7 separate regions of the Homo sapiens genome follow, and regions 1, 2, 3, 4, 5 and 7 are each reported to be linked to region 6. Evidence: microRNA targets listed by miRTarBase, many of them from high-throughput screens and not tested one by one. Region 6 holds a microRNA gene; each other region holds the end of a gene's coding sequence.

Region 1 (4,395 bases), not on the chromosome of region 6:
AGAGGTTTTATGTGGCTCCCAGGATTGGCACAGCATCAGAAAAGCCACAGTGCTGAAAACACCTACGAATCTACTAACTGTGATAAACATTTTAATGAGAAACCAAATCTTGCTTTGCCTGAGGAAACATTCGTATCAGGCCCCCAGTACCAGCACACTAAGTGCATGAAGAGCTTCAGGCAGTCCTTATATCCTGCCCTTTCCGAGAAGAGCCACGACGAGGACTCTGAACGCTGCAGCGATGATGGGGACAATTTCTTCTCATTCTCAAAATTCAAGCCCTTACAGTGTCCTGACTGTGACATGACCTTTCCTTGTTTCTCTGAGCTTATTTCCCATCAGAACATTCATACAGAGGAAAGGCCCCATAAGTGCAAAACATGCGAGGAAAGTTTTGCTTTGGACTCAGAACTTGCATGCCACCAGAAGAGCCACATGCTAGCGGAACCTTTTAAATGTACCGTGTGTGGGAAAACTTTCAAGTCGAATTTGCATCTCATTACTCATAAGCGAACTCACATAAAAAACACCACGTAAAGTAAATATAACAAATTGTTATTAGTGATTGGGCTTTTCAGTATCTGTATGGTGGGAAGCAGTTACTGTATATGTCCCAGGCAATGTGCTAAGCACTTTACACACATTCCCATGTAATACTTAATTCTCAGCACAACCGTGATTTAGGCAGTATCATTTCCATTTTATAAGTAGGGATGCAAAATCCGTGTCACTAAACTAGTGAATGAACCCAGGATTTGAACTCAGTTACTGTACAACTGTGAGCCAGAAGAAGATACACAACTTTTGTTTAAATTCAATTTTCATTAAAATGAAGGCTCTTGCTAAAGTTATTTTAATTTTGTTTACGTAGTTTCTGACTTTTAGAAGGAGGAGAATTTATTTATATTTTGCCAGTTCTGCAGACATATCTAGGAAAGTAAATGCTTTTATATGTTTTATACTTTTTTTTGCTATAACTATTTGAATGTAATACTTGTATAAGATTGCTGTTCTACATGTGAATTCCCACAGGCGTTCAGAAGTTTTTTTCTGCCCTGTAAAAGTTCCCAAATGGGTAGACTAGTTTATATTTTGATGGCCATTAGTATCCGGAGTTCTCTGTCATGGTTCTGATGCCAGGGGCACATACTGGCATTTAGGACCCAATTGTTTGCAAGGAGTTTTGGAAGTCTAACTGCAGCCCTTTTCTGGAGGCTGGACTTGACTTGGGGAGGGGGAGAAGTACTTGCTCTTTTCTAAGATTTGCCTCCAAATTGCTACTGAAGCACATTACCTGTCTTACTATGAATAATTGTAATTGTTTCTCAGTGAGCATGCTAGCTACTTTAGATATATTATGTAATTTAATCTTCAGAATCTGTGACAGAGAAAAAAAATCTTTGTTTCATAAACGAGGAAACTGAAGTCCTCAGAGGGTAAAGTCAGTTCTTTGCCCAGCACACAAATCACATTGTGGTGAAACTGACATTAAGCTTGGGTTTCTCTGACTCCAAAGGCCATGCAGTCTGCAAGACTGCGGCATTTGTTGGCATTTGCACCACGTAGTAGCACTGCAGGCAGCCAGGGAAAGGGGAGCTGAGATAGGTGAGGGTGGTCCTCATGGAGGCGATTCTGTGTGCTTGCATCCTGGAACCCCTTCATTCCCTTTGTGCTGTACCCAAAGCCTGACTAACATATACAGTTACAAAGCAGCAGAAGACTCTCCAGGACTTCAGGTTTGAATTCTTGTCCCTCTAATCAGATGAGAGATTTCACACTTGGCAGAGTACAATACTGAAGGTCTTAACTGGGTTTTGGTTTTTTAAAAAACACCCATAACATTTCCTCTCCATCTCCAAAGAAAATGCATATAGAAAATTGTTAGATTTTAACCAAAATACTTGATAATATATAGATCTTTAGATATTGCTATTATAGATAAATACTGGAGCAAAATATTATTAAATGGTATGGTTATTAATGTTAAAGAACCACAGAATGTTGTAAATATAGATTCATATACAATTTCTCATTAAAGTCGATTGTATGCCTATCAGCAAAACAATATTTACATGGGTTTTGATTAGGATGGAAGAATGCTCTCATTCTATTTAAATAGACAGTATAAAAGTACAATATTTGCTAAAATTGAATTGTTGCTGGGAATTTTTGCTGGGAGAAAAGATAAAGGACTCTTGAGGACTAATTATATGGAAGGTAGCAGAAGGTGGTCCTACAGAACAGCAGATTGAGGACTAAATATACAAAAAATGCTGGCTACTCAGCTAAGCTCTTATTACTGAGTAGAGGCAGGAAGATACTGTTCAGGTGAGAGAAAAACTGAAACTAACAAAAACATCCCTAACCCAGAGAGAGTTTCTCTCTCTTTGTCATTCTTGTCTTGTTTCTTGTTTGCAGATCCACAGTTGAGACAATGTGCTGCTCTGTATGTCAAGGTCAGACTTTGGCTGTTTGTTTCTGATGTCTCCACTCTTAGGAGACAGGACACCAGCTTCCAGGTTTCTCTGAGGTGCTTTGAAATGTGTAGAAAGATAGTCTCCAGTTAGATTACTTATTAGGCAACTCTGAGATACCATGACCTTTGTTAAATAACAAGAACACCACCTCCTTGCTCTCCTGCTTCTGCCCTCAGTGGGAGAAACTGGCAGGAGCCTCATCAGCACATATCAGGGGCCCTAAGAGTTCAGTCAAAGATCTAATGAGTCACAGGATGGGGGATGAAATTGGGAAAGGTCTGGATTAGCAGAGTTGCTGCAGAAAGAAGTAGAGGGGAATATCTTAGAAGGCACTTGGACAGAATGGGGGTGATATAAAAGATGTATGCTGTCATTTTTGTTTTGGCTCCTAGAAAATATAGCAGAAAGTGAGAATTTGTGCCATACATCCTGTTCTGCACCTTAATATGGAAGTTTGCCTTTCCACACGAGTCTTCCTTCACAATTAACCTCTAATTTTTTTTTTTGCAGTTTTCTCCAGATTTTGGAAGATTACGACAAACTTCCTAAAAGATTAGAAAAAATAGCCCTTTTCAGAAACATTAACATACGTGTGGGTAGAACTAAAATGGCTTTTTGGTATAATACTGTTAATGATTAGTATGCAGAAAAAAATGAAAACCCCGGAAGTGTCAGTTACTGTGAAAGAGGCATATTTTCAGTTGTGCTTATTGTGCAGTTGTACTTAAATACATTTGCTAGATGTAATTCAAGCTGCTTTACCCCCAGGGAATTGAAGGAAAAGATATATCTGCTGGTGAGCTTCAGGCTTTTTATGATGATGGCATTTCACCCTTCTGTTTACAGTGTCAACTGATGGAGATAAATTCCATAAAATTGTCATTAACTCAGATACTAGCCTTCCATGTTAGGTGCTATTCACAAATACTGGATAAAAGTTAATATGGGAATGAAAAACTAAATGCAAGAGTTTATTGCTATGAATGATTGGTTAACTGCATTTTGCAGCATGGAAATCAACACACTATGAGAGTGAAAACTTTGTGCTGAATAAATTGACTCAGACAAATTTCTCCGTTTTTGTCGTTGATGCAGTGATGAAAATGTATATCCAACAGTTCCTTAACATGATTGCTGGAATAGTTAAACAGTCTTTTAAACAGTCGTCATTGATGAAAACAGCATTTTTCCAATGGAATTCAGATGTCAGCAGTTTACATTTTATAATTTAAGAAATTGTGGAATGTAGTTGTTTTGAATGAGGTCGACTCAGAATAGTTTTATTTAGAGCTTTGTTGCTACAGGTGGTAGTCTATTGACACCTCCTCATTTAACATAGAAAATGACTAACCCAATAATTCAGGGAGTTAAAACTCAAATGACATTTCACAGCAAATGCCATTTTGAGTCTTTGCCTCCTGAGTTTCCATATAATTAAGTGGCAATGTTCTAGTGACTGCAGCATAAGATGTCATACAATCTGAAACTGCAGAGTTTGATCAAAGTAATCTGCAATTTACTGCCTATGTGTACAAAGGGAGACATAGCAGGTTATAGTTTATATGAATAGTCTATTTTGAATGTTCATTAAACTTGTTATCCCTGTGGGATTTTAGTAGGAAAGTGTATTTGCTTTGACCATCTGTTTAACAAAATGATGTTCATTACATTAGAAGTGTATGTATTCATCTGGTTTAGTTTTGTAATTTAGAAGAGCTATTGATCTGATTCAAAGATAACCATTACCCATCTTTCCAAGGCCCATCTAAGTAGTACAGGTGTTTTGTCTTTTAAAATTGACAGTCCTCTTTGCATTAAGTCTGTAGGGGGGGAATACAATATAAATATTCTTCTGTGTAAACGTAAGAATGTGCTGTAATCTCCAGTTCCTTTGGATACCTCAGAATTCTATTTATTG
Region 2 (4,395 bases), not on the chromosome of region 6:
AACATTTGGAATCAGGGGTATTACAGACATTTACAGCCACGGAAATTGATAAGATGCCACCAAAGGAATTAATGGGCAAGCAGAGTAGAACTGCTTGAAAAAACAAATGCCACTATGCCATGCAGTGTCACTAACCTAAGTAACCTTAGGTCAGTCATTGTCCCCTCTGAGACTTTCCCTATCCAAACAATGAGATTGGATTAGGTCACCACTAAGGTTCTCTCCCTAACATTTAGTGATGCCACTGTTGCAATGTGTGGCTTTTACATTATGAGGCTACACCAAGAGCCAGTTCTTCAACTTGCCCTGCAATCAGAAAGGTCCTAATGGGTCTCCTATAACAGAAGCCTCACAGCTGGGGATGCCATTTCCTCTCTAACCTCTGGAAAGACTGACCACCTGCCTGCTATTCTCATTGCCTGCTACTATGTAAAAACTTCTGGTGTCAGTCTCCATCTGCTGGGGGGAAAATCACTCTCAGAAAGAAACACCTTCTCCTGCCAAGGCTTTGGGTGGGGCTTTGAAAGTTGTTTATGACAACACTGAGTCAGCACATTCATCAGGGTCAAGCTCACAGTTGGAGGGAATTGGAAGAGGGCCTTAGTAGAGAAGAAACCTCCAGCTGAGGCTTCTTCAGTCTCAAAGGGAATGGAATCAGAATCCACAAATTCATAATGGAGATTGGCAGGGAAGCATTGGCACCATGCTCAAATCAGCGGTTTCCTCCCAACGTGTTAGGCAGTTCAGATTAGAACAACAAAAAAGTACTAAATTTATGGACTTGATCACCCCAAGAAGTCATAAAAGTTCAAAACTGGTTTTCAAAAGCTGCAAAATAGGATTATGTGAAAACAAGCTCTTTGGGGAAGCGCGTCTAAACTACTGAGACTACTGAGCAGGGGTAGCTGGGTTCTCCCCAGATGTGTATCTTAGGGTTTGTTTCTGGGGCCGGAGGGATCACAGATCTGACCTAGTGTGACATTTACATGCATTAAGAATCAACATCCTTTCCTCTAATTGAGTTGTTTTGTTGCCTGAATCCTTAGGGTTAAAATAAGGGTACTTGGCTGGCCTCTGAAAGTACAGGACACCTTTATTAGCCTCTGAAAACGCATGGTTTCTTCTCATCTCTGAGGGTGAATATACTAAGAATTCTTATAAATGGTATTTCCCTGTAAGACAGGTGATGACAGTGCAGGCACAGCTGATGGGGACTGCAGTCAAGTCGAATGGAACCCAGTGACACATAAGCCCTCCCTTCTGAGTGCTTCCTCACCAAAATCACACTTTGCTTTTTCACACAACATATATTTATTCAGAAAAAAATTTGCAATAAATTATAATAAAAAAGATGACACGAAATATAGAATCCCACTAGCAGCTTTGCTTAGTGATCAAGACGTTTTTGGGAAATATAACAAACAATTACAGAATAAGAAAACAGTGAAAGGGAGACTAATGCAATGTCACCACATGGATTTGAACCATTTCTTCCCTAAGACAGCAGGTGCAGAGTCTTTCCCTACCAGCTGAATCCGAAATCCTTACTTCAGAGCAGCTACAAATTAGTACCTTAGAGGACTTGGCAATTACAGGTTGGGGTGCTGGAATAGCCATGGTAGGGAAGCAGATTTCTTCTGTCTGGGTCTACATCTTGTCTCCTCTACCTAGAGATTGTCTAAAACTCTCAACTCTGTATATGTTCCAGGATGAGCTGAAAAAAGGTCGAGGCAGTACACCAACTTAGTGTTTTGATCTGATGTAGAAAGAGATAGGATACTGCATACGTGCAGCACAGAGCCTCCACTAACCACACCCTTGATCACCCAAAGATCCCAGGTCAGTGATATGCTAGAAAACAAGCCCAGGAAAGGTATTTCCCTGTGGTATGACCCTACCCCAGTGTCTATCATCTGCCTCTTTTTGTGATCACTTTCTGGCCTTGCGGAGATGACAAACCTGTTCTGCTCTCAGTCTTCCATTAACTAAGTTCAACACCTAGCCCCTGACCTATCATACCTCCAGATCTGTGGCACCAGTAACTTGACTCCTATTGCTTTAACTCTCAATCAGGAAAGGGTTTAGCCATATTGCAGAATACGTACCTTCCCCCCCACCCCCACCAAGAAACAGGAGAAATCACTGGTGGTGCCTTGGATATGCTAGAAATGTCACAGAGTCAATGCCCAGGATTGTACATACAGCCTGTACGTTATGCTCCTTGCAATTAATGTAAACAGGCAAGGGTGGTTGTAACAAAAGAAAACCAGGAGGAACCCAACTGCATCAGGCAGTTTTGCAGTCAGTGGTTGGTGGCTTGTTTGTCAACCAATATAGATTAATTTATTTTAAAAAAAGGCTGTACCACAGAGCTTGAATAAATGAAAAGCTCAGAGGGTCATCTTGTATGGGAGAGGTAAGGTGCTTGGTTGGTCCTGTTGGCCAGTCTCTTTACACAACACTGGATATGGTGACTGGGAGCCAAGGGGAGTCTCTAAACCCTTTATGTGAAGGAGCTGGTTGTAGAGCCCAGAGTCAGTCCTGCTGAGGAAGGAGGTGACATCTGCCCTTGGTATTTCAGAAGACCAGAGAATGGATTCTAAGGGTCATCCACAATACCTTTGCTGTGGGAAGGAGCAATAGCTCTAGATGGGCCTGCCTGAGGTACAAGACTTCCTCTTTTACTGTGGGGCCAGTGTTGCTCTGGAGGTGGATGTCTAGGCAGGAGATGGGTCTCAGAGACACCCAGGATTAGTCCTTGTGTAAAATTTGAATAATAACAGGAAAAGGATAGTGGGAAGCAGGACCTGTCAAACATGAATGCTCTCACTCTTCAGATACTCAAAGTGCTTCCATTCTGATTGTGATTCTCTCTCATCGATGAGATGCCATCTCTAATAGTCCCTACAGTTATGCTACTAAATGTGATCTAAGAGAATATGGTTCCACCCAGTGTGGAGCCATGAAAAGGCCAATGTTACAGAGACATAAAGATGCCATTGTAGTAGAAATGCACAAATGCATGTAATAACTGCACGCAGACAGTGAATTCACTGTTGAGGACACCCAAGGAGTCACTAGCCTCACTCAGACTTCGTTCAAAGTGACAGAACGAGGGGAGTGGAGTGCAAAGGAGTGATCCAGGAAGGGGTGGGTCAAAAGTGCAAAACAAAGGACTCTAGACAAGTCTCAGCTACAGCAAGTAGTGCTTGTAGGCCTAGAATGGGAAGATCTCAGAATCTAGGCCTAGGGTACTAAGGACAATCATGACAATTGGGTAGGAGGGCAACAAACACATCCCTAGGTGAAGGAGTGTAAATACAGATCTTTTTGCCTTATAAAGAGAAAACACAAAAACACCAAAATATGGTAACTTTGGCTTGGCAATATAAGTCTAAAAGTATTTTTCTGTGTAGGATATGGTAAAGGAGGGATTAGGAAACGCTCTTCCTTTTTACTATAAACAGAACTTGAAATTCTGCAATAGACCCTTCCTGTGGCATGACTTTTTAAATCATTCTGAAATACTTGGAGCCCGAGATCGTCTGCTTCTAGAATATCAGAGAACAGTAAAAGCCTTAGTCTTCTTCGCTCCCAAGCAGAAAGCCCAGAAGGAACTGAATAGCACGCTGGCGGTCACTTGGAGTCTGTCTTGCCATAAGGTTGGGTGGAGGCCTCAGGAGAAGACTAGTGAAGAGAGTAGCTACAAGACGAGAGAAAGACAAGCGGAAACTTCTGTCAGACATAACCTAAGCAAAACCTCAGGGCTGGAGGGCCTGGGGACAAGGACTATTGACTGCCATGTGCCTGCATATGCAGTAAGGTATATACTGGATACAATGCACTAAGAGTATTCTCAACAAACGCCCCGTGTTGCATGAAGCACTCTTACCGATCATGTTGGCATTGACGCTATTGTATTCAGAGAATTTTAAGAGTTCTCGAAGGAATGCCATCAAGTAACGGAAAACATTTCTATGGCATCTCGGAAGCTGGGAGATCACCTGTTTTTAAAAATAGGGGCAGGCAGTGAGAAAAACAGGTGGAAGATGAAAGTAAGAGGAACTTACAGCTGCTGTAATAGTAGTCTATAATCCAACCCTTGCAGGACCCATTTCATCTGTCTAACTTCTATTATCTCCTCATGGCCAACACAATACCTTCCAAATTATAACTTCAAAGTAAGAGTGGCCGTGCTGTTTGGTCCCTGTCCACTCAATGACCAGGCCACGTGGTCATCACACATTCATACGCACACCCTGCCTCACAATAGGTCAGTGTTCATCTGTTCTTTTCCCATTTCCGTAGGCATGTAGCCACGGCACCTACCAAGCTGAATGGTTTTCTGTTCTTTTTTGTTTGAATGGTTTTCTTTACAATGTCACTTAGCATGGA
Region 3 (4,386 bases), not on the chromosome of region 6:
TGGAATATGTGCAGAAATACAGTGGTTGAGTTTTCCTAATCCAAAAATCTGAAATGCAAAATGCTCCAATGAACATTTCCTTTAAAGTGTCACATCGGCACTCAAAAATGTTCTTATCTGAAGCATTCTGAATTTTGGATTGGGGTGCTCAATGGCTGTATGAGTATTTGGGGAATTCCTGGAAATGGACACATTATTACATATAAAACTGTCTTACAGACCTTAGAAATAAGGTTTTACAATGGTTCATAAGCTTTACAAATCTTCCTAAACTACTTTTTAAAAAACAATGCTTAATTATATAGATTTTGATTTTTTTTTTTTTTTTTTTTGAGACGGAGTCTCACTCTGTCACCTAGGCTGGAGTGCAGTGGCACGATCTTGGCTCACTGCAACCTCTGCCTCCCGGGTTCAAGCGATTCTCCTGCCTCAGCCTCCCAAGTAGCTGGGACTACAGGCGCCCGCCACCATGCCCGGCTAATTTATTGTATTTTTAGTAGAGACGGGGTTTCACCATGGTCTTGATCTCCTGATCTCGTGATCCACCCGCCTCGGCCTCCCAAAGTGCTGGGATTACAGGCGTGAGCCACCGCGCCCGGCCCAGTTCTGTTTTTTTGTTTTGTTTTGTTTTGTATTTTGTGTTTTTCTTGAGATGGAGTTTCACTCCTGTTGCCCAGGCTGGAGTGCAATGGCGCGATCTCAGCTCACCGCAACCTCTGCCTCCTGGGTTCAAGCAATTCTCCTGTCTCAGCTTCCCCAGTAGCTGAGATTACAGGTATGCACCACCATGCCTGGCTAATTTTGTATTCTTAGTAGAGATGGGGTTTCTCCACATTGGTCAGGCTGGTCTCAAACTCCCAACCTCAGGTGATCCACCTGCCTCGGCCTCCCAAACTGCTGGGATTACAGGCGTAAGCCACCATGCCCAGCCTGTTTTAAAAATTCTAATGAACTGGCCTGGTGCGGTGGCTGACACCTGTAATCCCGGCACTTTGGGAGGCTGAGGCGGGCGGATCACGAGGTCAGGAGATCGAGACCATCCTGGTTAACACGGTGAAACCCCATCTCTACTAAAAATACAAAAAATTAGCCAGGCATGGTGGTGGGCGCCTGTAGTCCCAGCTACTCGTGAGGCTGAGGCAGAAGAATGGTGCAAACCCGGGAGGCAGAGCTTGCAGTGAGCCGAGATCGTGCCATTGCACTCCAGCTTGGGTGACAGAGTGACTCTGTCTCAAACAACAACAACAAAATTCTAATTAATAATTAGATTGGAAATCATTATTTAAAAAATTAGTTATGACTCAGAAAATATTATTATATAAAAATTCAAGGAGAGGACATTATTAGGGTCATCTTACCATTATTAGCCATAGCAGTACTGTGTCTTGCACACATCTACAAATCATGGTTTTTTTTTTTTTTTTTTTTTTTTTTGAGAGAGTCTTGCTCTGTTACCCAGGCTGGAGTGCAATGGCACAATCTTGGCTCACTGCAACCTCCACCTCCAAGGGTTCAAGCGATTCTCCCTGCCTCAGCCTCCTGAGTAGCTGGGATTATACAGGCGCCTGCCACCACGCCCGGCTAATTTTTGTATTTTTAGTAGAGACGGGGTTTCGCCATGTTGGCCAGGCTGGTCTCAAACTCCTGACTCAAGCTGCTCATCCACTTTGGCCTCCCAAAGTGCTGGGATTACAGGCGTGAGCCACTGTGCCTGGCCTACAAATCCTGTTTTTAAACTGACAATCTGTTCTAACTACTTTGCTCATTAGCACACGAAAATGATACTGGTTGAGTTCGAAACATTGTAATTTGTATTTATAGAAACCCTAAGTAAGATAGTTCCCAAGATTAAATGCTATTTTAAAATACTTTTTGGAACAAAAATACCTCATTTTATCTTATATCATTAGGAGTAAACATGATCCATATAAGTGATTTTTAAAATTCATACCTTAAAGCAATGATAGTTTTTAAAAATTAAACCATTTTTTAATAGAGGTGATCTTAAAATACCTTCATTTATTGCCTTGTAAAATTCTACCTCCTGGTCCTGACCCCCAAGCTTTCTGTGAAAGATTCCAGGGTCAACACTATGAATGTCAAATATTATAATCCATTATAACAAAGTATTAACCTCAGCAATTTCTTAAGTGTAACAAATGTTTATCTTACGGTTGCTGCTTCTGTAGGCATAGATATTTCCTGATTACTTCATATTATTCTAACTTCTAGAAGTCCTGTCCCTCTGGTGCTTCTCACCTGTTTTTAAAAAAATCAGTACATGTAATTTTCTACATTATTCTAGCTCAAAAGTGCTCCACACTTTTTCTGCAGCTTAAAATAAGTTTTTCTTTCTTTCCTTTTGGGATTAGGGGAAAGGAAGACGGCTGGGCTTGATAACACACTCATTTGTAGGTTTGCTTCAGAGGTGCTGGATATTTCCTGATGGGTAAGTTTGCTAAAGAAATACATACCAAGAGGTCGCCATGTTATCATACTGAGGACAGCAGGAAACTCTTCCAGGTGAGACCAGAAAGGATAATACAATAATTTGCTAATAGTTAACAGACATTTGATATTTTATGGACATAAATAAAATGATTTACCTACTTTACAAAGTAATATTAACTACAGGTGTATCTAAAAACCTATGAAATTATTTGCAACAAATATTTCACTGATAAAAATTTCTTAATATTTCCCTTAGCAAAAACTGTACATTTGTTAGAGAGTACCTGATACTTGTTAAAATATCAAGTAATACAGGACATGGTGCTGTAAAACAAAACACACAACTGGGAAGTATTTTATTTTTTCTACTTCATATAACATTGTTCAACACCACAAGATTTTAAAGGTCTCTTTCCCCAACTTTTATGATTTAGAAGTACCACTTAAAAATATTTACTGATGCTGTAAATATTACTGTTTTTGTACATAGTAAAGATTTTAATGAATGCCATATCCATTATACCTCTTGCTCCTTTGGTCAGAAAGATAAACAGAAACTTTAAATCAGATGTTTGGACATTCAAAAATGGTTTTGAAAAGTATACCCAAACAAACCAAATATATATCAGCAACTATTAAAAATCAGTTTTAGTAGTTATTAAGAATTCTTAACAAGGAAGTATCGAAGCATGTGTGAGATTTTAAAAACTATATACAATTTTAAAAACAAATTTAAATTTTTAAATAAAAAAGATTAATGGCCAAATTAAAAAGTTTGTGCATCAGATTTAATATCTTAATGTTTATCAGAAATATATTTTGTGAGTAAGAATTATTTCATAAATATATATGTATAAATATAAATATATATCTGCAGGATCTGTGATGCTGGAGAAAACATTTTGAAGAAAAAAATTGCACTTTTGATTATCAAGATATTGTCAAATTTACCCTTTAAGTGAAATATAATTACCAATCCAGGTGCTTTTGGCACAAGTTTTTAGGTGAATATCGACACAATCTTAAAAACACAATGCTTTTGTATTTTATTCACTGGAATATGGAGAATCAAACAGAATTTAAAATTCTGACCCAAAAATCCCAGATAACTGCAATTGCTTAATTAAATACAAAAAAAAATTGTTTTAAAAAGCGCTTAGACTTCCCTTTCCATCTGGAACATGTAAAATTTTGCAGCAACAGGTTTTCTCCAATTCCTTCAGCAAGAATTCCCAGCCTACACACAAATTTAACACCATCTTTTTCTATTCATGTATAACTTGGATCACACACCAGTATATAACGACAAAAAATAAATGTATAATAAAAAGATTGGATAAATCAGAAGAGGCTTTTTGGTCTTGAATTCTTCACCCACTAACAATGAAGCAGCACTGTAGGCAGCCCAAAACACACCAAACAGCTTTAAAAAAAGGAAAAAAGACAAAAGGCAGCATATTAGCAAGTCAATTAACTTTTTGGATATCATAGAGTAAAAATGGTGTTTACAATATTTTTAAAAAATCAACAACCAATTTTGGTAAATAGTAAAACTTGTTACAAATGTTAAAAACTTATTAAGAATGTCCATCTTTGCTCTACTCCTTGACTTCTGTAAATGTGGTCTTATCAAACCAGTCTAATCATAAGAATCACTTGGGGTGCCTATTAAAAAGACTTGGGGGACTCTCTAGTTCTGTTAAATTATAACTTATTGTTTCTTTTTCTTTGAGCTATAATTTCTAAGGGAAGGATCTAGTTATCAGTATTTTAAATAAGTTCCCTGGTGATTATGATTAGGCAACTTTTGAAAAAACTATTATTATACCAAATTACTGAGAGAAAACTAATTCCTGCAAAGTAGGAAATTTTCCTTTTCCTTCTAAATAAGAAAATCGATTAAGTAAAAATTTTATACAATATTTATTAAGTCTT
Region 4 (4,395 bases), not on the chromosome of region 6:
GGCTCCTGGCAGACTTCCATCAGGAGCACTTTCTCTTACAGATGAAGAGTATATATTGGTTTTAGGGTGAGGGGCTTATTACAAGCTTGGAATGTTTCTGTGTGAGCGAGAAGTTTTATGGTAGGGTTGGAATGTCTCTGGGAGGAGGGGAGGCTTTCTTGGGGCAGACATCTTTCTGGCGGCCGGAAGCAAGGTTATCTCGAGGCCGTCATCTTCCTGGCCAGAGGGGGGTTATCTTGGGGCTAACATGTCTCTGGTCAGGGAGGAGTTTGGAACGTTTCTGGTTGGAGATGTTATCTATGGTTTATGGTTATGGTGACCTTAGCCATTAGGCTGATGATGCCTTTTGGATTTAGGTGGTTTTTGATTAAGGTAAACTTTAGAATGAGGGGCTTGTCCAAGATGGCAATGCTCCTGCTTCATCACCTAGAACATAAGGCCTTGAAAGTAACCGTACTTCAGGGTGTCAGCTCTTAAAGAAATGATGTCTTGATGTGAATCTTTAGTTGCTGTTGGTGTTGTTATTGAATACAATCTTGTTTATTTTCAGCCTGGAAAGATGTAACCAGTGGAAATGCTAAAATTTACCAGCTTCCAGGGGGTCACTTTTATCTTCTGGATCCTGCGAACGAGAAATTAATCAAGAACTACATAATCAAGTGTCTAGAAGTATCATCGATATCCAATTTTTAGATATTTTCCCTTTCACTTTTAAAATAATCAAAGTAATATCATACTCTTCTCAGTTATTCAGATATAGCTCAGTTTTATTCAGATTGGAAATTACACATTTTCTACTGTCAGGGAGATTCGTTACATAAATATATTTACGTATCTGGGGACAAAGGTCAAGCCAGTAAAGAATACTTCTGGCAGCACTTTGGGAGGCCAAGGCGGGCGGATCACGAGGTCAGGAGATCGAGACCGTCCTGGCTAACACCGTGAAACCCCATCTCTACTAAAAATACACAAAATTAGCCGGGCGTGGTGGTGGGCACCTGTAGTCCCAGCTACTCGGGAGGCTGAGGCAGGAGAATGGTGTGAACCTGGGAGGTGGAGCTTGCAGTGAACCGAGATCGCTCCACTGCACTCCAGCCTGGGTGACAGATCCAGACTCTGTCTCAAAAAAAAAAAAAAAAAAAATACTTCTGGCAGAGTCTTTTATCTTCCTATTAAAATCTCACTTGATTCTCCTTTATGGGAAGTTTGTCGACAAAATTCATGATTAGTAAATTATCCATTTTTTCCTTCAGTTAGTTTAATGGTGAAGATGATTAACAGGGGAAATGCTTGAAGTAAATGATTGTTTCAATGGCATACCGTGTCTCAAAGCTTGATCTCATTTTTTCAAATGTAGAATAGCCCCACATAGTAAGAAAATGTAACCTACTGCTTTGTTAAAAGAGATCCCAAAATAATTATTGTCACCTGTGCAGGCAAGTCGTCAGAATGCCTATACCCCACCCCTCTAAGGAGTTTATTCTACACCACTTACTGGGGGGCTCTGCCACCCTGGCATGTCTGGCTGGGACCTGGATCGTCCCCCCAGTGGACAACCAATCTAGAGTGTTGCCTGTGACAAAGGGAGTGGCCAAGCACAAATCTCACACCTAAGAGGCTGCCTCAGCCTCACTCAGCAATAACTTGAACTTGACTTAGGGAGAAAGCACAACAGCTGGAAGTAAACAGGAACCAAGAGAAAAAGAAAAGCAGAAATAGGAGCCAGGCTCAGTGGCTCAACACCAGTAATTCCAGCACTTTGGGAGGCTGAGTAGCAGGATCATTTCAGGTCAGGAGTTTGGGAGACCCCTGTCTCTACAAAAGATTTTAAAAATCAACCAGGCATGGTGGCGTGCACCTGTAGTCCCAGCTACTTGGAAGGCTGAGGCTGAAAGATCGCTTGAGCCCAGGAGGTCAAGGTTGCAGTGAGCTAGGATCATGTCATTGCATTCCAGCCTGAGTGACAGAGTGAGACCCTATCTCAAAAATAAAAAGTACATAAGGTCTTAGTAAATAAGATTAAGGAAAATGCATACAGGTGGTATTTTCCTAAATTTATCACTCTTTTTAAACAAAGTACAAAAAATATAAAATTAACTATTTGGGGGAGGCACTTTGAGTTTAGGCTACAAATAGTCTTAAGCAAATTATGTTGTAGTATGTGTTGTACTTTATCCTTTAATTTGATACTATTTCCAGGGTTCCCTTACTGAAAGATTGGTATAAAAGTAATTGGGAGGCCGGGCATGGTGGCTCACGCCTGTAATCCCAGCATTTTGGGAGGTTGAGACGGGCGGATCAGCTGAGGTCAGGAGTTCAAGACCAGCCTGGCCAACATGGCGAAACCCCACCTCTACTAAAAATACAAAAAAATTAGCCAGGCGTGGTGGCGGACGCCTGTAATCCCAGCTACTAGGGAAGCTGAGGCAAGAGAATCACTTGAACCCGGGAGGTGGAGGTTGCAGTGAGCCAAGACCATGCCACTGCACTCCAGTCTTGGCGACAGAATGAGACTCTGTCTCAAAAATAATAATAATAATTAGGATTCGTGATTATTAATTTGAAAAATGTTTAGTCAGTATAGTCTGCAAACTGAAGTTTCATGATGGAACAAATGCCAGGCTTTGGGGGTAAGCTTTTTCCCCTGCATCTCTACCTGGTGGAGGTAAAGTCCACATGGGAACAACTTTCAGGAGTTTTCAAGCCCTCAACTGTAAGACACCAAGTCTATCATTGATGATGTCTTCTCTTTGAAGGAATTAGGCCTTGGTATCATCGTGGAAGACGTCTATCATTAGGCGAAATTTAGAAAGATGAGAATTATCTTGATTGCCAAAATTTTCCCGATGAGAAATCAACCTCGATTTTTAAAAGTAAACTTTTTGAGGTAACTGCAGATTCCCTTTTATTTGTAAGAAATAATACAGAGAGATTTGTGTAGCCTTTTACCCAATTTCCTTTAATGGTAACTGTTATGCAAAACTATAGTATAATATCACAATCAGCATATTGGTGTTGCTACAATCAAGACAGAACATTCCATCACTGCAGGATCATCCCTCCTGCTGCCCTTTTAAAGCCACACCCACCTCCCTCCTCCCTGGCAACCACTATTCCATCCTTTGCGTCTATAAATGTTCCCTTTCAAGAATCCTGGCTGGACGCGGTGGCTCATGCCTATAGTCTCAGCACTTTGGGGGGCCAAGGTGGGTAGATCACCTCAGATCAGGAGTTCCAGACCAGCCTGGGCAACATGGTGAAACCCTGTCTCTATGAAAAATACAAAAATTAGCTGGGCATGGTTGCACGCACCTGTAGTCCCAGCTACTCTGGAGGCTGAGATGGGAGGATTGCTTGACCCTGGGAGGCAGAGGTTGCAGTGAGCCGAGAGCGTGCCACTGCGCTCCAGCCTGGGTAACAGAGTGACAGCCTGTCTCAACAAAAAAAAAAAAAAAAAAAAAGAAAAGAAAAAGAATGTTATATAAATGGAATTATACATGTCACATTTGGGGACTGGCTTTTTCTGCTCAGCATAATTCCCTGGAAATTCATCTAGCAGACCTAGATAGTTTTGTTGTTGTAGTAACATGAAGTGGATCTATTCCTCTGGTCATACCATTCCAAATCTAAATTTTTATGCAGGGAATAGAGGTACACTGTTTTGGGGGATATTTATCTTAAGGGATCTCAAACAATTTTTTGAATTGTTAACATGAGACTGTCTTCTTTCAAAGAGCCTGTGTACCATCCAGAAAGACTGAGTAGGGGGCCAATATTATATTCCAGACTCTATTTTTACTCAGATAGAACTGAACATATGGGGTACAGTAGTGGTACAGTTTATCACTAGATACATTTTAGTTTGCCTTTTTGTCTTAAATGTCTTAAATGTAAAAATTTAAAGAAAAATAGATATTCCTATGGGGGCTTTTTAAATTTCTTTAAACTGCTATGGACAGACTTGTAATTTTTTTTTTTTTTTTTGAGACGGAGTCTTGTTTTGTCGCCCAGGCTGGAGTGCAGTGGTGTGATCTTGGCTCACTGCAACCTCCATCTCCTGGGTAAAAGCAATTCTCCTGCCTCAGCCTCCCAAGTAGCTGGAATTACAGGTGTGCACCACCAATGGCTGGCTAATTTTTGTATTTTTAGTAGAGATGGGGTTTTGCAATGTTGGTCAGGCTGGTCTCGAACTTCTGACCTCAGTAATCCACCTACCTCGGCCTCCCAAAGTGCTGAGATTAGAGGCGTGAGCCACCACGCTCAGCCTTGCCATTGATTCTTAATAACCTGTTTTTATTTCACCAGTAACATTAACTTATTGTAACAGAACAGATGAGCCAAAAGAACAAACAGCTGTTCAAATCTGTACACATATTACCAGGGCTAGACTTTCTA
Region 5 (4,336 bases), not on the chromosome of region 6:
GGGTGTGGAGAAATCCCTAGTGCCAGGAGAGTGGGATGAGAGATCCTTCAACAGCCTTAAAGGTCAGCTGGTCATCTCAGCCAGTGGGGGTGAAATTGTAGGTTTGATCTAAGTTTGATAGTTTGATACAGCTCATTCTATTTTTTCCCTGGTTACACACATACTTTAATCCACGGTTCCTGTACTCCTGTCAGCTGGGTGGCCTGGGTCAAATTCAAAATCACTATTGGAGAAAATGAGGTTATTTGCACATCTCAATATGATAGTGTTCAAGAATGTCTTCTCCAAGTGTTAGAAAACTAGACAAACGTCTGGGCGCCAGGGAATCTGACAGCCAAGGTCTTGATGAGCACCTGCACCTGTGTGGCATTTACTGTGGTGGGACTTGGGCCCGTCGCTCCCTGATGCCCAGCTTCTTGGTGACCTTACCTTTTTCCTTCCTCTTCTATTGCAGCTAAAGCAGCAGCACACCCTTCTGTACAAGGTGAATGGAATCCTCACGCTGGCCACCTTCCTTTCCTGCCGGATCCTTCTCTTCCCCTTCATGTACTGGTCCTATGGCCGCCAGCAGGGACTAAGCCTGCTCCAAGTACCCTTCAGCATCCCATTCTACTGCAACGTGGCCAATGCCTTCCTCGTAGCTCCTCAGATCTACTGGTTCTGTCTGCTGTGCAGGAAGGCAGTCCGGCTCTTTGACACTCCCCAAGCCAAAAAGGATGGCTAAATGCTCCTGGGAGTCAGGCGCAGCCTCACACCAGCTGCCTCCTCCACTCAGCATTCCATGGACCAAATTGTGCCCTGGGTAGCCTCAGACTTTGGGTATTGATAAGCCGATGGATTTGAGTTTTTCTAAAGAATATTCATATTACCTCCTTCTTCTAACTTGCCCTATTTGCAAAAGCACTTTTGTAGTAACAACTATTGGGTCCTGTCAGACCTCCACGGACAGCAAAGTGGTTTTAATGCAAGCCCAAGGATCCTTCTTAAGGTCTTATCTCAAGAGCTCTGGGAGGTGGAAGCATGGGGTGGGATCGGTGGACCAGGGTGGTAAGTGTCTGCACATCTGCCTGTCCCTGTATCAGCGGCTACCCACCTTCCAAACCACTCAGGACAGTACCCGTGGCACTGGGCCCGCAGAAGCAAGGGATGACTTGGTTCTTGGAAGTAATGTCGTCTTGTGACATTGGCCTGGGACAATCATTGTGGGTAGGTAGTTATTGATCGTTTACTAGATAACCCATTGGTTCTTTGCCTCATCCTCTCATCCATGGGTCAGAGTTGAATTCTTATGTCTATAGACTTCCAATCAGAAGTCTCACTGGTGGGGCTGGGGGTGGGGGCAGGCAGGAGGCATGGATGGGAACCTGAGTAGGTAGTGTGGCCAAGAGATCAGCACAACCTTTGCAGGCTGACTTGCTAAGTCTGACAGTGACAAACTTGTGAGCTTACTGCAGTCAGTCACAGAGGCTGTTCTTTTTCACACACCCCTTCATGCCCGGCTTTCCCCATATCCACATGCAGAGGGCGAGCTCATAAAACTACAGGGAAGCGTGAAATGATGGCTTTGGTAGCTGTTTACTGGGTAACCCCACTGTGACACTGTCCTTTTCATGTGATGTGGAAACCTACTTCTGTCCTCCAAACCATGAAATGTGTCATCTAGACTGCAGAGTACTTGAGTGCTTTGCCTCCCGATATGCCAGAGCTTGTGGTCCAAAGCCCATTCCTGTGTGTCCGTCCTGCCATTTAGCCACAGAAGGCTGCGGAGTGAGGCGGCAGCTAGCCTGGCCAGTGGCTGTCCCGTGGACCGACACCTGCGCCCCCTTCTGCAAGCAGGATTTTCTGGTGCCAACACTCATTCATCATTCCCGATCAACTAGGATGAATTTAAGACTGTGCTACCATGTGTTCTCAAGTGGTAGTTTAAAAAGTGGATTTTTAAAGTGCCTTTCAATTGTCTGTGAACGTCTAAAGGACTGATTTGTCTCATTTTGACTGTTGAGTCTTTAATGGGTGCCATTTAAAAAACAAAATGCTATTTTTTAATTGTCTTTTTTTTTTAACTATCAGTGTATCTTTAAAAGTCACCCTTACGGTGATTAAATTGCACTAACATTCCCAACTTATTCTCATTTGTGAAATACATCAATATCAGTGTCCTGTAAGAATCATCCTGTGACCTAGCTCGACTGGCTGCCGTGTGCTGTGGCTCAAGGTCTGTGTCCATGTAACTAGCAGAGGGGTGTGTGTGTGAATGCTTTCAGCCTCCAGAAAGGTCTAGCTCACACCTCACTCAAACCTATTTTTGTGGTTCATGGTCTCAGTAATACATTGAAGGTTCCCAGAGTTCAAGCGTAGTGGTCACACGTAACTTGAGACCGTTTCTTCTCTTCATAAGTGAATCTTACTAGGAATTGGGAGAGTGGAAGACCGATTATTGGTCAGGGAGCCAAGCCTACTTTACCTGAGGAGAACCTGAGTAATGCCCCATTGTGAAGGAGGGTGTGGATATGGAGGGAGTGATGGGACATATTTTTTCCCCCTTTCATCTCACACATTAAACATGTCCCCAGCCAATTTTCATAGTTTCCTCATACCTCAGACACCTTAAACTCATTTTTTTTTCTTTTTGTAGAGACAGGTTATCTCTGTTGCCCAGGCTGGTCTCAAACTCCTGGCCTCAAGTGATCCTCCTGCCTCAGCCTCCCAAAGCACTGGGATTATTACAGGTGTGAGCCACCATGCCTAGCCCACTCTCAATTTTTTTTTTTTTTGTTTTAGACAGGGTCTCACTCTGTCACCAAGGCTGGAGTGCAGTGGTCTGATCTCAGCTTACTGCAGCCTCTACCTCCCAGGATCAAGTGAGCCTCCTGCTTTAGAACCCTGAGTAGCTGGGACTACAGCTGTGTGTCACCACACCTAGCTAATTTTTGTGGTTTTTTTTTTGTAGAGACAGGGCTTCCATATGTTGGCTGGTCTCAAGTGATCCTCCCGCCTCGGCCTCCCAAAGTGCTGAGATTACAGGTGTGAGTCACCGCACCTGGCCCAAACTCATTTTTTATGTTCCTGCACACATCATTCCCTTATCCAAACCATTCATTCATCCAAATCTTGACAACCCCTCCTGAGGCAAAAGCTAACGTGACCCATCCATTCAGCACATCTCTGCTGGGTTTGCCAGGTCTCGTCTTCACAGTAGCCCCTTTGGGGGTGACTGAATAGATGGAGTTAAGACTGTATGGGAAGTGGGTGTGCTTATTGTCCCAGCTACTCAGGAGGCTGAGGTGGGAGGATCACTTGAGTCCAGGGGTTCAAGGCTAGTCTGAGCAACAAAGACTGTACACACTCCTCAATTCAGAGGGGACCCATTTTCTTGAGGTCACTAACCTAGCCCCTCGCCACTGAGTTTATCTTGGTCCTCCAATCCTCTCATTTTAGAATTGTGCAGGCCTCTCGGGCACAGCAGTCTCATGGCCAGAGGCAGAGCCAGGGCTGGACTGGATTCTTTTCCAAGCTGCTGTCCTTTCCAAGATACCTCAAGAAAAAAACATTAAAAGACGAAATAACTCTTGAAGGGGGTTATACGTACCATGTAATGCTTTTTCCACTCACATGGTTTCAACTTTGGGCTTATTTGCCAAAATCTAGGATGGAAAAGTCCAGTTATGAACATGTTCCTCCTGGCTGGATTTGATCTTGAAGACACTAAACCCAATTTCAGAGCATATTTAATCCTGGGCTATTGCTGAGGCCGACTTAGAAGAGACAAAGTGAGATGCGAAAGAGGAGAATTTTTATGATAGTTTGTACGTTACAAATACCCAAGAAACTATTTTCTTTACACCATTATTGCCATGACTTTTTGTGGACAGTTTCACATAACTGTAAAGTCCAGGCTGCTCGGGTCTGACCCCTACAGACCTGCCATGTTGAAGCCCAGCTTTTTCGCTCCCGCACAGGTAAGAAGCTGCTGATCTTCTGCAGACCCGCCATGTTGGGGCCCAGCTCCCCACGCCAAGTCAGAAGCTGCTCATCTTCTGCAACAGGGTTTGGCGCCGTTCTTCAGGGCCGATGCCCTCAGCAATGGACTTTAAGAAGCGCTGCTCGTGTGCCCTCTGGAGCAAGGAGCTGACAGAAGGGTTGGTCTTGCTCAAAGTCTCATAGCAGGTGAGGGTTTCCAAGGCTAAAACGTAGAGTGGCTCACAGACCTCCGGGTGGAGCATGGCCATGATGTGCAGAGCATGGCAGAACACCTGGGTGTAAACAAACAGGGCTTCCTGGGTCAGGTCCTGCTCTGGTCCTTGAACCCAAGGGCCAGCTGCCTGTATCGCCCTGA
Region 6 (4,395 bases):
GAACAACTGATCTCAGGTGATCCTCCTGTCTCAGCCTCACAAAGTGCAGGAATTACAGACAAGAGCCACCATATGCACACTAGTCCCATATTTAAAATTAGGAAAAAAAAAAACAAAACAAAGATGCCCACACCTGAACAGCAAATCGTTTGTTGTTCAAGTACATCTCAAATACATTGTTTATCTAAAATACAAGTTTAACTGGGGTCAGGTATGAACCAAAGAACAGTCCTTACTTTCTTCTTGTCTGTGCATGGGGGGTTAATATTCACATGTGGTCCCATCTACCAAGGACTGGGGAGGGGCAGAGGCAGGAGGATCTAAGCCCACTTCAGCCAGGGCAGCATAGTGAGACCGCCGTCTCATGCATTTATCTCCTGGTCATGCACCCAGATTTCAGCTTCATTTCCCCAATAAACACTGAAGCCCCATGCACTCCACCTCCGTGCTCTTGCTCATCCCATCTGCAGGGACACTGAGGTCCCCTCAACTCCACCTGACCCCACGTGAGGTTCTATACCAGTGCCAGAAAAATTTCCATAAAGTAAAAGGTGCTGATGGCTGTGCCCGGTGGCTCACGCCTGTATTCTCAGCACTTTGGGAGGCCGAGGCCAGCGGCTCACTTGAGGTCAGGGGTTTGAGACTAGCCTGGCCAACATGGTGAAACCCCACCTTTACTAAAAAAAAAAAAAAAAAAAAAAAATCAAAATCAAAAAGTAGCTGGTTGTAGTGGTGGGTGCCTGTAATTCCACCTACTCAGGAGACTGAGGCAGGAGAATGGCTTGAACCTGAGAGGCAGAGGTTGGAGTCAGCCGGGATCATGCCACTGCCCTCCAGGCTGGGTGACAGCAACACTCCATCTCAAAAATGAATGAATGAATAAAAAAGAAAAATACAAATATTAGCCGAGTGTGATGTCAGGCATCTGTAATCCCAGCTACCCAGGAAGCTGAGGCAGGAGAATCACTCGAACCCGGGAGGTGGAGGTTGCATTGAGCCAAGATCGCGCCACTGCACTCCAGTCTGGGTCACAGAGCAAGACTGTATCCCATAAAAGGACCATCTGAGCCCAACAGGCCTATCTTAAAAAGTGCTTCTCTAGTCTCTCCTGGGCAACAGAGACCTTGTCTTAGAAAAAAAAAAAAACACAAAACAAAACACACACACCAAAACAAAAAACAAAAACCTAACAAACAAAAAAACCAACCAAACAAACAAACAAAAAAACAGACTCCCAACATCATCCAAGTCTGATTACAAGCATGGTCTGCAAATGTATTACCAAGATCAGCATCATCTTCAACGTGGCTTTTCCCAAACGGTAACACTCTAAAGGGAGGCACTTTGTTTAAGAGAAAACAAACAGAAAGCGCTTCCCTTTGGAGGGTCACAGCATGGGATCTTCTTGCTCCAGCACTCTGGGTTTTTTGTTGAAATCTTCCTTGACCAGGTTAAAATGGCCACAACAATAAAGATGCATTTATTGGCCCTGTTTGCCTGTTTTCTAGAATCCAGAACATAAACCCCTAAAAGGACCATCTCCAGTTCCTTTCTTCAAAGGCTCTGCAGGTTAGCCTTGTTCATCAAGGGGCAACCCTCCTGAGTTTTGCCTCTAAAGAGAAAAAGCAATGCCTACTACACATACCTTATATTTAACCAAGAGAACTGGGCTGGATTTCTAGAGAACAGCAATGGACTTTGAGCTGAGTGTTCACTTGAGTTCCAGCACAGGGATACATAGTTCCGATGGGAGCATCCAAAATGGAGTCTAAGATGTTGAAGAATATACATTGTCACACACACAAACATCCTCCAGGATAGACCACAGGCTAGTGGATCACCTGAAAGCGGGAGTTCAAGACTAGCCTGGCCAACATGGTGAAACCCGTCTCTACTAAAAACATAAAAATTAGCTGGGTGGGGCAGTAGGTGCCTGTAATCCCAACTACCTGGGAGGCTGAGGCAGAAGCATCACTCGAACCCAGGAGGCGGAGGTTGCAGTGAGCCTAGATCATGCCAGTGCTCTCCAGGATGGGCAGCAAGAGTGCAGGACACGATGGTGGGTGCCTGATGCCTGAATTCCCAACAATTCGGCAGGCTGAGGTGGGAGAATCACTGGAACCCGAGAGGTGGAGTTTCCGGTGAGCAGAGATCCTGCTACTGCACTCCCAACGAAACAAGAGTGTGTCTCAAAAAATCAAAAAATAAAAAGAGGACCACTTAAGCCCAAGAAATCTTGGTGGAAGGTGCTATCCACCCACGCCTGGGCAATAGAAAGCCTGTCTTGGAAAAATTTCAAATCACAAACAGAACCCCGACATCATGCAAGTCTGATGATAAGCACGCTCTGCAAATGTATTACCAAGATCAGCAGCATCTTCAACGTTGCTTGTCTCAAACAGTAACACTCTAAAGGGATGCACGATCTTTTCTTTTATACAACAGACAGTGCTTCCATCTAGAGGGTCACTGCCTGAGATCTTCTTTTTTTTGACACGGAGTCTCACTCTGCCGCCCAGGCTGGATGCGGTGGTGGGATCTCGGCTCATGGCAACTTCTGCCTCCTGGGTTCAAGCGATTCTTCTGCGTCAGCCTCCTGAGTAGCTGGGATTAGAGGCACCCACCACCATGCATATTGCATATATGACTGCATATATGACCTGGTCATGCACCCAAGATGTTGGTTTCATTTCCCCAGTGAAAACTCAAACCCCATGCACTCCACCTCCGTGCTCTTGCTGAGCACATCCCATCTGCAAGGGACACTGAGGTCCCCCTTTGACTCTACCTGACCCCACATGAGGCTTTATAAATCAGTGCCAGAATAATTTCCATGGACTAAAAGGTGTTAATGGCCATGTGTGGTGGCTCACGCCTGTAATCTTAGCACTTTGGGAGGCTGAGGTGGGCAGATCACCTGAGGTCAGGAGTTCGCAACCAGCCTGGCCAACATGGTGAAACCCCGCCTCTGCTGAAAATATAAAAATTAGGCCAGGCGTGGTGGCTCATGCCTGTAATCCCAGCACTTTGGGAGGCAGAGGCCGGTGGCTAACTTGAGGTCAGGGGTTTGAGACCAGCCTGGCAAACATGGTGAAATCCCATCTCTACTAAAAAAAAAACAAAAAACAAAAAACAAAAAGTAGCCAGGTGTGGTGGTGGGCTCCCGTAATTCTAGCTACTCAGGAGGCTGAGGTAGAAGAATTGCTTGAATCCGGGAGGCAGAGGTTGCACTGAGCAGAGATCACGCCTCGGCCCTCCAGCCTGGGTAACAGTGAGACTCCATCTCAAAAACATAAATAAATGAATTTTAAAAAATGAAAATATTATCCAGGTGTGGTGATGGGCACCTGTAATCTCACCTACTTGGGAAGCTGAGGCAGGAGACTCGCTTGAACCTGGGAGGTGGAGGTTGCAGTGAGCCGAGATCACACCACTGCACTTCAGCCTGGGTGATAGAGAGACTCTGTCCGCTAAAAAAACCATTTGAATCCAAAAGACCTAGGTTGGATGTGCCACCGCACTCCAGCCTGGGCAACAGAGATCCTGTCTTAGAATAAAAAAGCAAAACCAAAACAGAACCCCGCCATCGTCCAAGCCTCATGATAAGCATGCTCTACAAATGTATTACCGAGATAAGCATCAACTTCAACGCTGCTTTTCTCAAACCGTAACACTCCAAAGGGAAGCGCCTTCTTTTCCTTTGGACAAGAGAAAGTGCTTCCCTTTGTAGGGTCACAGCATGAGATCTTCTTGCTCCAGAACTCTGGGTTTTTTGTTGGAATTTTCCTTGCCCAGGTTAAAATGGACACAAAAATGAGGATGCATTTATTGGCCCTGTTTGCATGTTTTCTGGAATCCAGAACATAAACCCCTAAAATGACCATCTCCAGTTCCTTGCTACAAAGAATAAGCAGGTTAGCCTTATCCCTAATCCCAGCACTTTGGGAGGCCGAGGTGGGCGGATCACCTTAGTTCAGGAGTTCAAGGCCAGCCTGCCCAATATGGTGAAACCCTGTCTCTACTAAACGTACAAAAAAATTAGCTGGGGTGGTGGTGTGTGCCTGAAAATCCCAGTTACCCGGGAGTTGGGGAAGGAGAATCACTGGAACCCGGGAGACAGAGGCTACAGTAAGCCGAGATTGCGCCACTGTACTGCAGCCTGGGCGACAGAGCAAGACTGTTTCAAAAAAAATAAATAAATAAAAATAAAAAAAATTTAGTGTCAGGGACAAGGAGATTCAACTAAAAAGATACAAATAAATAGAAAAAATAAGAACATTGTATTAATATTGACATCCATTGGGATTACAGAATAGACTGGATAGATGTGGAGGCCTATATTTTTTGTTTTGTTTTGTTTTGAGATGGAGCCTCGCTCTGTCGCCCAGGCTGGAG
Region 7 (4,342 bases), not on the chromosome of region 6:
AGTCTTGCATATGATAGGCACTCAATATTTGTTCAACTGGACCTAAAATTTACATCATTCCATGAACACTTAAATAAAGTAGAGCTCATTAATTTGTATAAAAAAGGTTTGTAAAATACACTTTGTGTGCGGAAAGTGCTGTCTTTATAGCTGTCTTTATAATCTGAGAACACTAAAACGAACCCACTCACCCACCCACCTTCTTTTGTAAGAATAAATTGAATATTTTTATTTTATCCATCAAAGAGCATGCATGTCCAAGTCAGAATAATTCACCTCTTCAAGTATACTTGGCTCTAAGCCAAGTATACTTAAGTATGTTGAGCTGGATTTTCACAATCCCTGTTCTATTTTAGTAACACTGGGTCATATCTATGACCCACATTTTATAAAGAATTCTGATTAAGATTTTAAATTTATGAACAAAATTTAAATGGGTATATTATTAATTCTAATTTTGGCCATCTAAGCTCTTATTTAGATCCAGTTTAAAAATAAATGAATAATGTTCATGACAACTTTTTGAGATCTTTGTTAATATTTTAAAACAATTTTATTATAATTGATGTCCTAAAAAGGCACTGTTTTCACATTTCATCATGCAGTAAATTGATCACATTTTTGAAAATTATCATTTCCTCTGTTAATCAATTGTCCTCCAAAGTAAAGCATATTTAAATGAAATATTTCTGCTAACCTGAACTTTCAACATTTAACTGATTTCTATTTCCAGAAATTCACTCTTTGTAACATACCACACACAAGCCCCAAGCAAATACAGGTATGTACACAAACACACAGACACACACGCGCATACACACACACACACACGATCACATATTTCATGCAAGGTTCTCCAATTACCAATTCAAGACAATGACACATGACTATTCAAGGAGGTAACATTGGCAAGCCATATTATGGCACCTTCATTATTTGTGCTCCAAATATCAACACACATTAAAATTAAAAATGAAAAGGCACAAATATAGTATTTCTAAGTGTTGGTCTAAACAACAGTTACCCAATGATTATTCTTATAGTATGCAACATTTGAAACCATTCACTACCTTCTCAGAAAAAGCCTTGCTTAGGTGACAAAGGGAAACAGGAACAGGCTAATAGCTCAAAAGGCGGGACAGAGTATCTATACCTATTTTGAAAGTAATGTATGCAGTTTAAAAATGAGGAGAAGGAGGCTATTAGAGCACTCATGTCAGAATACATTAAGTGTTTTTATCATTGCCTCAAGAACCCACAATACCAAAAATATACATAATAAATAAAAAAATAAATCAACTACCATATGATTCTGTTAGTATAATGGTAGGCATTATATTATCTGAAAAGTGGACATTTCTACAAACATGGATATTCTTACAGCACAGTGTTTGACATTTTTGGTACAAAATGTGCTACCAAACTAAAAAAAAAATCTTTATAATAAAATCCTTAAGATTTGCAATAAACTCTCGAGTAAGTAAGAAGAAGCTGAAATGTTCATTATACGGTATTTTTACTGAAGTCACTGTGGTTAGAAATATAGATTCAAGCGGTGAATTAAATCACAATGTGCCGGTGTGGTGCGCATTGGATATAAATGGATACATCAGTACTTTTCTGATATATGACAACATAATTCTATAGCCTGAGGGAATTTTTGTTTTCTTATAAGACCCTCGCAAAATCTTAAAACTGGAAATGTATACATATGTATGTATGTATGTGTATTTTTAAAATTGTATATTGCAAACTTGAGGCTCAATCTTACGATGGATTTAAGGAAGTGAATTTCTACTTCCCATAATACTCTTACACAGGATGAAGTATGAAGTTCCATCACCAGGTAAGAATCTTTCTTCTATCCCAAGAGATTCTTCCAATTTCAAATTTAAGTTACCACGACAAAGAATGAAACTACATAGAAAGTAATGAAGACAGGTGAAAATACGATCTTTTTAAACTCTAGGTTGTTGTGGATAACAAATGCTTAGTTGAGTTTTTTCAATGTAAATATGAATCCAAATGAATCTGGACATATTCGAATTGCTTCAGTTAACACCTAACAAAGAGATAGCAAAAATAAGGTCTATTTGAAAACACCTCAAGCTTCATTTTTTCTTTTGTCCTGAATTCAAACATTAAATAAACAAATTATACAAATTTTAATCTGAAGAATAGTTATGTTTGCAAACATAGGTATATGCGTTTTTTTCCAGTGACACACTTTTTCCCTTGTGGTCAAATATAAATCTTGCCCTTAAGAAGCACACTGGTCACCACCACAGTAAGTCAGATGTGGTACCCCAACACTGACTGCTTCTGCTTCTCCAGGACAATGCACCAGAACAAACCTCCCTTAAGAACACAACTATCAAACACTGAACGTGTATATGCATTTAAAGCTAAAATTCATTTATAATAAAGAACTGGCCCATGAAAAGCAGTTTATAAATAGTTTATCCTGTTCACATTATGCAGAATTTCAGTATCATCCACAATGTTAGTACAGTAACTGAAACACAATGAAGAAAAACGGGGAGTGAGGGGAGGTTCCTAGTGTGACCTGACATAGTCTAAGGGTTCTCTCCTTTTGTATGCATCTCCCAAAGGCAAGTATCAGTTAATTGTTTGAAGGAGAGTAGACTATCCAGGATTCATTTATTGTTCAGGTGTCTTTTCCAAAGTGTGAGAAAATAGGAGTCAATTCAATAATGAATATCTGTAATCCAAACCAATTTAACTACAATCAAGGATGTCTTTCTCATCTATTATCACAAACATCCCAGTTGCCTCCATCTAAAAATTTCTTTGAAAAGTTAAGACACAATTAATTATACCTTATTAATTCCCTCAAAAGCAAAAAAATATATGTACCATTCAGCATACAAAAGTTACACAGTAAAAGTGCATATGTATCTTTCTTAATTGGCCCACTCATTAAATTTGCATTTGGTCATCCTTACTTTTAACATGTACAGAATTCTTCGTATAAATGTAGGTCAGTATAAATTAAAAAAAAATTACTTCCACACAATACATGCTTTCTTCATGAAATCTTAACCTCAATCAGTTCTCAATAATTGTAAACTTAGAATAAACCCACAGTTTGTTGGACAGTTAACATACAAGACAAACATCATAAATGTCACTAAAAATCTAGGCCAACTCATTGCATATTTGCCCCCTGAAATGAAAAATAAATTAGAATTGAAGCAGTGTATTGCCATAACTTACCTTGAAGGTAAGAGGGTTCTCCCATATTTATAGAACTTAGATTGGAGATATTACTGGTAATCTCCAATACAAGTGCTTTTAAAGAGAACTTAAACTTTGAGATAGCATAGGACAAACCCTATAAAATTCATTTTTCTTTTTGCAAAATAATGGAAGATCCTTTTGAAACTTAGTATCTTCAGTTATCAATATTACTGCATTATGGAGCTAGTGCAATCCTGCATAGCCTTGGTCAAAATGACAAGGCACAATAAAAAAAAATTAAAGTATTATATGAACAAGACAAGTCATTGAAGATAATTTAAGGCCTTGAAGTGAATTAATCAGTCTAATTTAAAGCTGAAGAATAAACCATAAATTATCCACCTGAAATGCAAGCAATATGCTTTTTCAGCTTCTGTTCTGTGGACAAAATAACAGAAACAACTCTTGCTTATGGTTTGTGTATTAGAATCCTTCTGGACCTGGAGGAGTGAAAGTCAATTCCATTTTTCAACTGTTCATGGAAGATTTCAGGACTGTTTTAGCCGTTTGCGTGGAATGCCAAACTGTGGACACTGTGCAGATGCTAGTGCTCGAAAGGCTTCTGCTACTAAATGAGGGTGAGACTGAATCATGGACTTCCACCCTGATGTTTCCATTATGTCGGTTGCTTGGCTGAAAAATAGAATTAAAAGATATTTACTAAAGAATACTTTTCAAAATGCACTATTGCACTGTTAATTTCTTAAAAACTTGCAAATTTCAAAATATTTGAACACTTTTTACCTATGTATTCAAATCATTTGCTTTTATTAAAATACCATCTTTATCTTACTGGTATCTTCTGTGGCAACTGAAACTATTAAATTTTTCTGGAAGTTCGGCTCCCTTAAAGTATGTGACATGGGTCTTCATAGTTCAACTCTCATTGTTACAATTTCTGTACCAGCTCTTTCAAGAGTCCCTTTCTCTTCTTTTACATGCCTCTTATAAGGCAGATTTTCTCTTGAGTTACAAATATTGGACTCTACTCTCCCCCCTTAACATGCATTACTAATTCTATCTCATCCACTCTTCACAATTTTAACTATGAAATTCAATGATGTTAACTACCGATTTGCTA

What was found. Region 6 holds the annotated microRNA hsa-miR-519d-3p (CAAAGUGCCUCCCUUUAGAGUG, at 1,326-1,347, opposite strand). A microRNA usually pairs through its seed, bases 2 to 8, with sites in the 3' UTR of a target mRNA and lowers its output. Matches are read on the target gene's strand: a 7mer-m8 pairs with bases 2 to 8, a 7mer-A1 pairs with bases 2 to 7 and ends in A, and an 8mer does both.
Region 1: the mRNA of ZNF597 is a reported target of hsa-miR-519d-3p. Seed matches in the 3' UTR shown: 8mer at 630-637.
Region 2: miRTarBase lists OCRL as a target of hsa-miR-519d-3p. Seed matches in the 3' UTR shown: 7mer-m8 at 3,159-3,165 and 7mer-m8 at 2,844-2,850.
Region 3: miRTarBase lists YIPF4 as a target of hsa-miR-519d-3p. Seed matches in the 3' UTR shown: 7mer-m8 at 2,310-2,316, 7mer-m8 at 1,678-1,684, 7mer-m8 at 562-568 and 7mer-A1 at 83-89.
Region 4: the mRNA of OLAH is a reported target of hsa-miR-519d-3p. Seed matches in the 3' UTR shown: 7mer-m8 at 876-882.
Region 5: miRTarBase lists TLCD3A as a target of hsa-miR-519d-3p. Seed matches in the 3' UTR shown: 7mer-m8 at 901-907.
Region 7: the mRNA of SPOPL is a reported target of hsa-miR-519d-3p. Seed matches in the 3' UTR shown: 7mer-m8 at 2,905-2,911 and 7mer-m8 at 133-139.

What each region holds. Positions count from the first base shown.
Region 1 is chr16:3,432,566-3,436,960 of GRCh38, reverse strand. ZNF597 (zinc finger protein 597) reads left to right here. Exons shown (of 4, transcript NM_152457.3): 4 at 1-4,395. The coding sequence ends at 537. Among named protein-coding and RNA genes, the nearest start is that of ZNF597, 8.7 kb to the left of the region's middle.
Region 2 is chrX:129,589,454-129,593,848 of GRCh38, reverse strand. OCRL (OCRL inositol polyphosphate-5-phosphatase) reads right to left here. Exons shown (of 24, transcript NM_000276.4): 23 at 3,893-4,004; 24 at 1,293-3,703. The coding sequence ends at 3,579. Among named protein-coding and RNA genes, the nearest start is that of OCRL, 51 kb to the right of the region's middle.
Region 3 is chr2:32,304,977-32,309,362 of GRCh38, reverse strand. It overlaps YIPF4 (Yip1 domain family member 4), which reads right to left. Exons shown (of 6, transcript NM_032312.4): 6 at 1-3,874. The coding sequence ends at 3,737. Among named protein-coding and RNA genes, the nearest start is that of YIPF4, 29 kb to the right of the region's middle.
Region 4 is chr10:15,072,537-15,076,931 of GRCh38, forward strand. It overlaps OLAH (oleoyl-ACP hydrolase), which reads left to right. Exons shown (of 8, transcript NM_001039702.3): 8 at 551-1,317. The coding sequence ends at 693. It overlaps ACBD7 (acyl-CoA binding domain containing 7), which reads right to left. Exons shown (of 4, transcript NM_001039844.3): 4 at 2,939-4,395. All of the region lies in intron 2 of ACBD7-DCLRE1CP1 (ACBD7-DCLRE1CP1 readthrough), which reads right to left. Among named protein-coding and RNA genes, the nearest start is that of ACBD7, 14 kb to the right of the region's middle. RefSeq lists a silencer at 1-41.
Region 5 is chr17:740,847-745,182 of GRCh38, forward strand. It overlaps TLCD3A (TLC domain containing 3A), which reads left to right. Exons shown (of 5, transcript NM_024792.3): 5 at 455-2,122. The coding sequence ends at 724. It overlaps GEMIN4 (gem nuclear organelle associated protein 4), which reads right to left. Exons shown (of 2, transcript NM_015721.3): 2 at 3,575-4,336. The coding sequence ends at 4,020. Among named protein-coding and RNA genes, the nearest start is that of GEMIN4, 9.2 kb to the right of the region's middle.
Region 6 is chr19:53,710,352-53,714,746 of GRCh38, reverse strand. It overlaps MIR519D (microRNA 519d), which reads right to left and starts at 1,400; the gene lies at 1,313-1,400. MIR524 (microRNA 524) reads right to left here and starts at 3,745; the gene lies at 3,659-3,745. It overlaps MIR517A (microRNA 517a), which reads right to left and starts at 2,479; the gene lies at 2,393-2,479.
Region 7 is chr2:138,568,488-138,572,829 of GRCh38, reverse strand. It overlaps SPOPL (speckle type BTB/POZ protein like), which reads right to left. Exons shown (of 11, transcript NM_001001664.3): 11 at 1-3,894. The coding sequence ends at 3,750. Among named protein-coding and RNA genes, the nearest start is that of LINC02631, 31 kb to the left of the region's middle.